3 linked regions of the Homo sapiens genome follow. The protein of the gene in region 1 purifies or fractionates together with the protein of each later gene. This does not show direct contact. Each region holds a gene or a part of one and is shown in the gene's direction. Other genes may lie near its edges. The genes, in order: SPATA1, WNK1 and NECAP1.

Evidence for each region.
Region 2: the proteins of SPATA1 (region 1) and WNK1 purify together in Homo sapiens (affinity purification with mass spectrometry; one large-scale study listed by BioGRID and IntAct). This does not show direct contact.
Region 3: the proteins of SPATA1 (region 1) and NECAP1 purify together in Homo sapiens (affinity purification with mass spectrometry; one large-scale study listed by BioGRID and IntAct). This does not show direct contact.

The regions. Positions count from the first base shown.
Region 1 is NC_000001.11:84,561,825-84,565,481, forward strand, and holds part of SPATA1 (spermatogenesis-associated protein 1), read left to right. Parts: intron 1-1,432; coding exon of another isoform or gene 1,433-1,594; intron 1,595-1,910; coding exon of another isoform or gene 1,911-2,008; intron 2,009-3,657. Other genes in the region: CTBS (di-N-acetylchitobiase precursor), read right to left, coding at 1,433-1,594, 1,911-2,008.
Region 2 is NC_000012.12:885,044-888,700, forward strand, and holds part of WNK1 (serine/threonine-protein kinase WNK1), read left to right. Parts: coding exon 1-1,041; intron 1,042-2,177; coding exon 2,178-2,261; intron 2,262-3,657. UniProt on the Homo sapiens protein: Serine/threonine-protein kinase component of the WNK1-SPAK/OSR1 kinase cascade, which acts as a key regulator of blood pressure and regulatory volume increase by promoting ion influx.
Region 3 is NC_000012.12:8,080,726-8,084,482, forward strand, and holds the start of NECAP1 (adaptin ear-binding coat-associated protein 1), read left to right. Parts: upstream 1-1,548; 5' UTR 1,549-1,563; coding exon 1,564-1,658; intron 1,659-3,757. UniProt on the Homo sapiens protein: Involved in endocytosis.

The DNA.
Region 1 (3,657 bases):
AAGGTATGTACTTTTTTTAGACATAATGCTATTACACACTTAACAGACTACAGTATAGTATAAACATAACTTTTATATGCACAGGGAAACAAAAAATTCATGTCACTTGCTTTATTGCTATATTTACTTTATTGTGGTGGTCTAGAACTGACTCTGCAATATCTCTAAGGTATGCCTGTATATGTAATTGGTTACCATAACTTTTAACAAACCATATCCATGAAACAGTTTCTAAGAACTGCATGTTTCTAAGAATGCTGTGAAACAAGATTATATGTCAAACAATTAAACTACCTTATGTATTACAGCACTTCTCAAACCCATTAATATAATTGTTGTTACAAATCTCCAAGAGGGGCGTACAGTATATAGTGTTTTTCTAAATATATTTGGCCATGGCACACGTGTGTATATTTTGCACACATGTGCATCTGTGTGTGTAATATTAACAGTTCCCAGGACAGACTAATATAAACACTGTTTAGGAAAGATAAGATTACAATACACTCTAGTTTCACTAATAGGTATATACTTTCAGTTCCAAAGTTTAGAAAGCTCTACACTAAAGCTCTCTGTGGAGGCATACACATGTATATCAATTATAATTTATGACATGTAGTGTGTTTGCAGTCATTTTTTTATAAATGGGTACCAGACCATTAATTAAGCATATAAATCCTTGCTGAACTTCACTTATATCATTTTAGTACTCCTTTTAAAGTAACATAATCTGAAATAAATTCAAAGAGGATTTGTACTTAGATTTTTGAGCTGTGGAAGAGCCTTTATAATGCTAAAGGTAAATTATGAAAACTGTAACTTTTCTTTGCCATTTTGGTATAGCAATTCCTATTAAACACTACTTGACAGAATTGCTAATCACTTAGTGTATTTCTTCAGGTTTCCTTTATGTAATATTTTTGTAAGTTTTGACATTGCTTTATAATTTAATTATAAAATAAATTGAAAATGATAGTTTTTCCATTGTAAAGTCGATTATGACACCTCTTCTGTTCTCAGCCTCATTCCTCCCTATGTAAGTCTCATCAGAATCTGTAGGCCACTTTGAAATGGAGGCTTTCAGAGATAGTAACTTATTTTGGCCCAAAACCCATTCAAAATCAACAGTCATCCTAACATAATTGTCAACTGTTACAGAAATCCTGTTTGTGATATGCACATTTTTATGGCATCATCTAAATGACAAGTGGCCCAAGCAGAGTAGATTCACCATTAGCAAAACTCCAATTGCTCGCCAGGGAACTAAAGTTCCTGATTACAGATTCAAAGACAAGTTTACTCATGTAAATAGCAGTCTGCATGTTATGCCCTAAAAGAAAACTGATAGAAATTCTTGATATCAAACATCTAATTATGAAAATAATTACAAAAACTAATAGAATAAATGCTCATAACTTACGAAAAGTCTTACTTTATAGTTATAATAAGGAGCCCGCTGATCTTTATCCCATAGGTTTCCAGAAATAGAACTATTTATTTGCTTCATGATCGTTTTGTAGGGCACCTGACGTCCTGCAGCGTCACTACAAGGAGCCCCCCGGAAAGGGACTTTTGCAATGGTACAAACATGATCCTAGAAATGCAAAAGTGCTCATGTTATATATTATCAATTATGCAATTCTTAAAAGCCAAACCAAAAATATATAAATTATTTAGAAATAAAACATATACCATAGAAAACCTGACTATACAGAAAAAAGGTTAAAATAAATTTCATTATTAAATGAAAATGTATGATAATCATAAGCTTTCATAGAAGTAAAAATAAATAATTTTTATCTCAAACTATATTTCAGAGATTCTAAAGTTTATATATTTCTAATGAAAACAGAGAGACTCTAAAAAATATAATAGATAATAAAAATTATGTAACAAATGACTGTTCCTACCTCAGACAGATTCAGGCAGGTATAATCATAACCATACCAAGGAACACCCATTACAAGTTTCTTAGGATTAATGCTCATCTTGATGTAGTCATTATATCCTAGTCAAGCAGGAGAGAAAAAGCATATTTGTTTCTCTTCATATGTCAATGTGTTCATACAAGCTATGCAACCGTTCAGAATCTGTTTGTAAAAACAAGTACATTTATAAAAAACACTAATATTGTTTAATATGTTATAAAACATCCCTTAAGAACCATAAATTCTATATCTTGCTTTCTAAACCATTTCTCTTTGAATAGGAGAAAACATTCAAAACAATTAAGATCATACTGAAATAAAATATTCACAAAATCTAATTCTAGGAAGAATGACACATTTCAGGAAAGTATGCTAATTATATCTATTAATTCTAAGATATGATATACTTGATACTCTAGATTCTAAAGTTTCAAAAAAGTTTTATAAATCTTAACTTTCTAGCAGTGATGGTCTCAGAGTTTCTTAGAAAGTACAAGTGTTCCATGTTTTGCAAATATTCTGTAAGTAAGCTGGGGATAAGAAATGTGTCATCTATAGTGGGAGGAAACAAAGAGAAAAATGAACAAATCCCTGGAACTATCAGTCCTTTTCTTGCCCAATGCTGCAAAACATGTTTTTCCACCAAGACATATTCACAGATTACCTAGAATGTTCAGCTAAAAAACTTTATTACTTTTTAGAGCCTTTAATGTTATTATGTACTATTAAATAACCAAAAATGGGGTGGGGTATGTATCAGTTCCCAAACATATTGGTTTATTTAGTTTGGTTGTTGATTTATTTATGATACAAAGTATCCCTATGTTGCTCAGGCTGGCTTGAACTTCGGCCTCATGTGATCTTCCCACCTCAGCCTCCCAAGGCTTGAACCTTTTATTGATAGAACATAATTATAATGTCTTGCCTGAAACACAGTTTGGGAACCCTCAATTAATAATTACTTCGTAATTTTAACAGAATAAGTTATTTTTCAACTTTAAATAGGTATGTGGCTAGGCACAATGGCTCATGCCTGTAATTGAAGCTCTCTGGGAGGCTGAGGTGGGAGGATCACTTGCGGCCAGCCTGGGCAACATAGTATGACTCCATCTCCTTAAAAAAAAAATCTTTTTTAAATTAGCTGGGCATGGTGGTGCATGCCTGTATACCCAGCTACTCAGGGGGCTGAGGTTGGGGGATCACTTAAGCCCAGGAGGTCGAGGTTACAGTGGGCTATCATAGTGCCACTGCACTCCAGCCTGGGCAACAAAGCAAGACTCTGTCTCAGAAAAAGAAAAAAATGAAAATATTAGCTGGGCATGGTGGCATGCACCCGTAGTCCCAGCTACTCAGGAGGCTAAGGCTGAGCTTGTGAGGTTGAGGCTGCAGTGAGCCCTGATCGTGCCACTGCACTCCAGCCTGGGTGATGGAGTGAGACCCTGCTCAAAAAAATAAAAATTAAAAAAAAAAACAAAAGAACAAGCAATCTTTTATTTAGTTGACTGATGGAATACAAACCAATCCAAACTTTGAAGAGGATAATGCAAAGCCTACATCAAATGAATGACAGGTCAAAAGTACTCAAATTCTAATAGGAATATAATTTTTAATTTATCACAGATACTAAAAGAAGTTAATGCCTATCCTATTAATCATGCAATGAAGGTGCCCAACCATATCTATCTTTGCTATTATTTAACACTGGTTATTTCAACAAAAATATCCTGTC
Region 2 (3,657 bases), on another chromosome or scaffold:
TCAAGTATCACAATACCTGCAGTTGTCTCAATATCTACTACATCCCCGTCACTTCAAGTCCCCACATCCACATCTGAGATCGTTGTTTCTAGTACAGCACTGTATCCTTCAGTAACAGTTTCAGCAACTTCAGCCTCTGCAGGGGGCAGTACTGCTACCCCAGGTCCTAAGCCTCCAGCTGTAGTATCTCAGCAGGCAGCAGGCAGCACTACTGTGGGAGCCACATTAACATCAGTTTCTACCACCACTTCATTCCCAAGCACAGCTTCACAGCTGTGCATTCAGCTTAGCAGCAGTACTTCTACTCCTACTTTAGCTGAAACCGTGGTAGTTAGCGCACACTCACTAGATAAGACATCTCATAGCAGTACAACTGGATTGGCTTTCTCCCTCTCTGCACCATCTTCCTCTTCCTCTCCTGGAGCAGGAGTGTCTAGTTATATTTCTCAGCCTGGTGGGCTGCATCCTTTGGTCATTCCATCAGTGATAGCTTCTACTCCTATTCTTCCCCAAGCAGCAGGACCTACTTCTACACCTTTATTACCCCAAGTACCTAGTATCCCACCCTTGGTACAGCCTGTTGCCAATGTGCCTGCTGTACAGCAGACACTAATTCATAGTCAGCCTCAACCAGCTTTGCTTCCCAACCAGCCCCATACTCATTGTCCTGAAGTAGATTCTGATACACAACCCAAAGCTCCTGGAATTGATGACATAAAGACTCTAGAAGAAAAGCTGCGGTCTCTGTTCAGTGAACACAGCTCATCTGGAGCTCAGCATGCCTCTGTCTCACTGGAGACCTCACTAGTCATAGAGAGCACTGTCACACCAGGCATCCCAACTACTGCTGTTGCACCAAGCAAACTCCTGACTTCTACCACAAGTACTTGCTTACCACCAACCAATTTACCACTAGGAACAGTTGCTTTGCCAGTTACACCAGTGGTCACACCTGGGCAAGTTTCTACCCCAGTCAGCACTACTACATCAGGAGTGAAACCTGGAACTGCTCCCTCCAAGCCACCTCTAACTAAGGCTCCGGTAAAATTATTGTTATAAAATAATTAGATAAATATGATCAGTTTTTTTTCTCCCTAATGAGTACATTTTTCACTTCAGCCTTGTAAGTTAGAAACATATTTATAAAGGTACCTGGCTTATAGTATTTATTAAATTGACAGCAGTTTGAGGGTATATCTACAATGAACATGAGATTTTTTTTTCAAGTGTGGCAGGATTTTAGGGTTAATTATGCTGCACAGTTTTCCAAGATGGTATAATTATCGGGTAAAATACAGGTATTTCTTCTGAATTGGTACAAACTGAAGAAGTCTGTATCCCAAAAGGGAGCTAAATGCATCTGTCAGCAAAATGTACGTAAATAATAGCAGTTCATAGTCTTTGTTTCAGTGAGAATGAAGCAAATTTTTGGTTTTGTTGTAGATTCCACAGTTGTACAGTTTGGGGGTTATAAAAAATTGGAAGTTAGTAAGGAAATTGATACAGAGGAGAAATAAATAATCTAATCCTAGGACTGAAGTAACTAAAATTTATTATCTAATTATGCTGTGGTGGATTTCCTCTTGTTCTGCCACCTTCTCCAAATAACAAGGCTGTGTTACGTCTACTGTATTGTATGCTTCAGCCTCTTTCTGCATTGCCATTGATGTGAGGTTCTTTTTATAGTAGGATAATGCAGAATCTTCACTCAGATAAAATAGAAATTCTTGATAATAGTATTAGATTTCTGATGCCTTTTGTTATCAGACCTGCCCATTGGTTATTTCTTAACCAGTTACTGTTTTCTTTTCTCAGAAAATCTTGTTTTACATGGCGAAAGTCTGATACATACTGTACCAAATAAGTAGCTCAAGAATATCTGGACACTGCCACTTATGTACATATAGCCTTTGTTCTGTTCTCCCTAGGGGACAACTTTTTACTGTATTTTACTATTCATTTTATAGGTATATCGTAGTAACCCCTATAATAACAACATTAGTTGTCACACCGTTTTTTTAAGACAGATACCAGAGAGTAACCTCAGTGATAAACATGTCTTAACTATATATATTTTATTCTTATGTTTGTGCATTCAAATTAGTTGATTTGCTCTTCAGTACGCAGTCTTTATATTTAGCGTCTCACGGACTTGATTTTCCCTTTGTTGTCTGTAGGTGCTGCCAGTGGGTACTGAACTTCCAGCAGGTACTCTACCCAGCGAGCAGCTGCCACCTTTTCCAGGACCTTCTCTAACCCAGGTGCCTCAAGACTTGACAAATTTCTTCCTGTGCCCTACTTTCTTTGACAAAGCTTGCTGAAGTTCTCCACTACGTGGTCTTGGCTTTTGCCTATTTGTCTTTGACTTAGTAACACCTTTCTTTTAAAATGTTATAACCAATGACCCAGTTCCTACTTAAGTAAGAAGCTTCATAGCTCTTTTGTTTGTAATGTTGCTTCCGGTTATCCAAAAACACTTGATACTAATTTTTTTTTTATATCTTATGAAGGAAGAAAACAGCAAAGCAAACATTTTGTCAGACCCATATAGCTCCCTTTATCACTCACACTTCTGTAGAATAGCGAAATTGCGTATATAATCAAAATTAACTTTGAGAGTGCCCTAGAAAGGAGAAGCACAATATGGCAACTGAGAAACTTTTTCCGCGAGTCCAGAGCAACCAGTCTCTTCTTGAATGTTGATCATTTCTTTCACTAGCCACCTAATGAAGGAATTAGCTTACTTATAGGTAGGTATAGGGGTGATGTTTCATGAAAACTATGTGTGCTGTCTCTTTTAAAATAAAAGCCACCGAGCTCAGTGAGATGCTAACATTATGAGATCACTCATGGAGGAACTGAGACCAGCCTCATGAACTTGAGATTCCCATCTCACACAGTTCTGCTCACTTGAGTGCAGTGGTGGACAGAATTACCTGTAATATTTATTATTTCTCTTTCCCACCGCAGTCCACCGCCAACACATTTGTTGAATTTCCATAAGAAAAGTACTAATTGTGAATCTGTTGTGACCAGGAAAAATCTTCTGACATGAGACAAGCCAGTAAACTTTTAAACTAAATTAGGAATTTATTTTTGAATCATATATAAGAAATAAGAAAAACATGGTAAATTGCTTACTTGAGAAGCTGAGTTGGAATTTATCCCTATTTCTTTGGTCCCAATGTACAGGGGAACACTATTTGAGGAACTTGCCACAATGAAGTAAAAACCCCAACAGAGAAAGCACTCCATCAGCCACCACATTTGGGGGAAAGTGCATTGTGAAAGTCCGTAAATCAGGAGTTAGAAAATTAGTTTTAAACTTATTTTCTCATTTAAAAACATGGATTCAGATTTCTAAGGGAGTATAAAGTGTGACAAAAAATAGCAAGTGAGACATGTGGAGGGGTAAGGGTAAATAGCTAGTGCCTAGATAGAGGGAAAGGCCTAAGCAAAGACTGTGCAAGAATAGATTGATAGAAGCCAAGACAGATGTAGGATTAGACTGTGGAAGGGTAGAAGGAAGCTGTGTGCTTGCGGTGGATGGAATGGTTAACAGGATGGAATACCCAGACCTCCTTGCCACCATCTGTAGGGAAGAAGTATACATGTAAGAAAGAGGAAAATAATACCCTGTGATAGTGACAGAATATG
Region 3 (3,757 bases), on another chromosome or scaffold:
TTCACTATTACAAACAATGCTGTAGTATTATTGTACATACTTTTTTGTGCATATAAGGATTTCTCTACAATATTTATTAGTGAAACTGCTAAATTGAAGATTACGTCCAATTAATATTTTGATAAATTCTGTTAATTTCCCTTTTAAAAATGCCGTGCCAATTTACATTCCTGCCAACAGTGTATGAGATTAGACTGTTCCTCACGTCCTCGCCAGGGATAAATGTGGTAATTCTTTTTGAAATTTAAGATATCACTTTCCAAGGTGGAGCAGACAAATTAGAGGCAGGTTTGCTTTTTTTTTTTTTCTCATTAAACTTTTTTAATGGGTCTCAAAATTCTGTGACAAATTTTTGGATGTTTCCATTAAAAAGTACTGATTTAAAAAACTAATAACTTAAAACTGCCACACGCAAAAAAGAAAACCAGTGGTCCACAAAACATTCTCCTTTCCTTCTGAAGAAGAAAACCAGTGGTCCACAAAACATTCTCCTTTCCTTCTGAAGGTTTTACGATGCATTGTTTTCATTAACCAGTCTTTTACTACTGAACTTAAATGGCCAGTTGAAACAAACAGTTCTGAGACCGTTCTTCCACCACTGATTAAGAGTGGGGTGGCAGGTATTAGGGATGATATTCATCTAGCCTTCTGAGCTTTCTGGGCAGACTTGGTGACCTTGCCAGCTCCAGCAGCGGTGAAGACTGCTGCTGTTGTAATGAGGCAGGCTTGAGTTTCTGTCTCAGTTTTGCCACTTGCTATCTGTACTGTCAGGGTGTTGTGGTTAAGTTTACCTTTGGGGCGCAGAAAAAGCATATTTATGGTGAGAGTTCGGTAGCATTTATCATTATAATAGAACTGGGAGCTAATATAGGCCATTAGATAGTTCATTATGCTTCCGATTTTATCAGGAATTGGGTTGATCCCACGTATAGTCTATTTAACAGGATCAAATTTTCCAAAAAGATAATCGGAATACACGCCGAAAGTGTGGCAAAACATTTTAACAGGTGTCGTCCTGAAAAATCGGAGATAAAGAGTGTAAGGCACTAAATCAAGTTGGGTGTTTTCAGCGTTTAGACTCTGGAGAGTTGAAATCCACGGTGTCTATGACCAGATCATACATCATTCTCTGCAGGTACCTCGTCTGGGACTACCGGCTGGAGGTTGCCTCTTTTCTGCCAGGAGACTACAGTTAGGAAGTGACTCCTGTAAGAAAATCCGTCACGATTCAATATGGTCCTCGTCCTCGTAGGACACTCCAGGCACCTGCCTAGAGTAAGATGGCGCTTTTCGTAAGCACCTCTCCAGGACAGAGATTTCCATAACGAGAGTCACGCACTTGCAGGCCATCTTTGCCATTATCCAAGACGGTGAGCCGTGCAGCCTCATCGTTTCCAGGTTTCAATATGGCTCCCCGCGTCACCGAAAAGGTTAATCTCAGAAACTAACTTGAACTCGCGCGGAAGTGACGCAACAGAAGTTGTCGCGCTTTGCATCTCCGCCTCCCGTGCTCCGCCTCCGGTCTTACGTTTCGCCCCCGGCAGCGCCGACAGCGGACCCAAGATGGCGACCGAGTTGGAGTACGAGTCTGTGCTGTGTGTGAAGCCAGACGTCAGCGTCTACCGGATTCCGCCCCGGGCCTCCAACCGCGGTTACAGGTACTAACCCCGAGGCGCTGCCGCACACGCGTACTCTGTCGCAGATGACAGCTTCCTTCTCAGCTAGCACGCTGTCCGTCCCTGCCACTACTACCTCTGTATTGTCACCTTGCTAGCCTCCCTACCTGGGTTGTCATCTCCCTGACCACCTGCTCCATCTCCACTCTGGACTGTCATCACCATATTTCTGCCGTTTTTTTTTTTGTTTTGTTTTTTATTAAATTACCACTCTGCGTTATTCCACTCTGCCTCTCCCGTAATCCCCTGGGGCACCCATCTGCTCCCCATCATGCACTTTCAGTCGTGCTTGCTCCATTGCCAGTCCCCTTTCATTCGCTCTTCCCTGCGTCCTTCAGCTTATCATCCTCATCCTTTCTCTCTCTCTCTCTCTCACACACACACACACACACACACACACACACACACACACACACCTTTCCAGTTCCCCATGCACATTTATGGGTAATCGTGTTGCTTGCCACTCTGGATTATCTGATTTATTTTTTGTACTGTTGTCAATTTCGTCACCAACTGTCATCATCCACCATTCGGTTTTTCCTTCAGCAGTTTTACCAGTGAGCAAAGGTTATGATCATAAGCTTTACAACGGTTGTTCATTCTGTTTCTTCTCATTGTATTTTCTTGATGATTATATAGTATTTTCTGTCTTCCTTCCCTACCTCCCTTCTTAACCTCTCCTACACCTTTTCCCTCCAAAGTTGAGGCAGCATTTTTCTCTGTTGGGCCTAACTACCTACCTTGTAATCCAATGACTGTGAGGTTCTGAGGATGCTATAGGACATTATGTAGTTGAAAGACAGTTCACTGGGCTTCATGTTAAACCATATGAGTGTGAGCCCTTTCCAAGCCTCAATTTTCTCATCTGTAAAATAGAAAAAAAAACCTGTTAGTGATGATACCTGCGCTCTTATAATGTGCTTAACAAGGGTTTTTGGGAGAGTAAAATTAAATCATATAATGGATGTGAAAGAATGTAGGAAATGCAATAAAGCAGTTACAAATACTATTTGTTTGTTCTTTTTTTTTTTTTTTTTTTTTTTTTTGAGATGTAGTCTCACTTTGTTGCCCAGGCCGGAGCGCAATGGCTCAATCTCAGCTCACTGCAACCTCCGCCTCCTGGGTTCAAGCGATTCTCCTGCTTCAGCTTCCTGAATAGTTGGGATTACACGCATGCACCACCACACCTGGCTAATTTTTGTATTTTGAGTAGAGATGGGGTTTCACCAAGTTGGCCAGGCTGGTCTTGAACTCCTGACCTTGTGATCTGCCCACCTTGGCCTCCCATAGTACTGGGATTACAGGCGTGACACCACGCCCAGCCGTCGTTTTTTTTTTTTTTTTTTTTTGTTAGAGAGGCAGGGTCTCGTTCTATCATCCAGGCTGGAGTGCAAGTGGTGCAATCACAGCTCACGGCAGCTGTGTACTCCTGGGCACAAGGGATCCTCCTACCTCAGCCTCCCAAGTTGCTAGGGCTACAGGCATTGCCTCACAATGCCTGGCTAATTTTTAAATTTTTTTGTGTAGACAGGATCTTGATATATTTCCCAGGCTGGTCTCGAACTCCTGGCCTTAAGTGATTCTCCTGCCACAGCCTCCCAAAGTGTTGAAATTACAGGTGTGGGCCACTGCACCTGGCCAAGATACTGTTCTTATTCTTCTCTCTGACCCACATCATCATTGTGATTTTTCCTCCTGGCATTTATCATTACCTTGGCTGAAAAGTTACCCTCTCCTTATGTCTGTTATTTTGCCCCTTACTGGCGTTTTATTCATCATGAATCAATATTTTTATGCTTGCTGACCTGTGCGCTGGGCCCTGTGGGTTGCACCTTTGGCAAAGAGGTAGCAGTTCTGTTTTTAATAAGCTTTTAGTTGGACCCCAAACTGACCCTAAGTAGAAATCAACATGCTTTTAGATGGTAGTTACAGGTACTATATGAGTCACTTAAACATCACCTTCTTTGGGAGGCCCTATGTGACCCTTCCATTCTGGTTTAGATATGCACCCTGTGTGCTTCCATAGCACCTTTTTCTTTTTCTTTTTTACTTTAAGTTCTGGGATACATGTGCAGAATGTG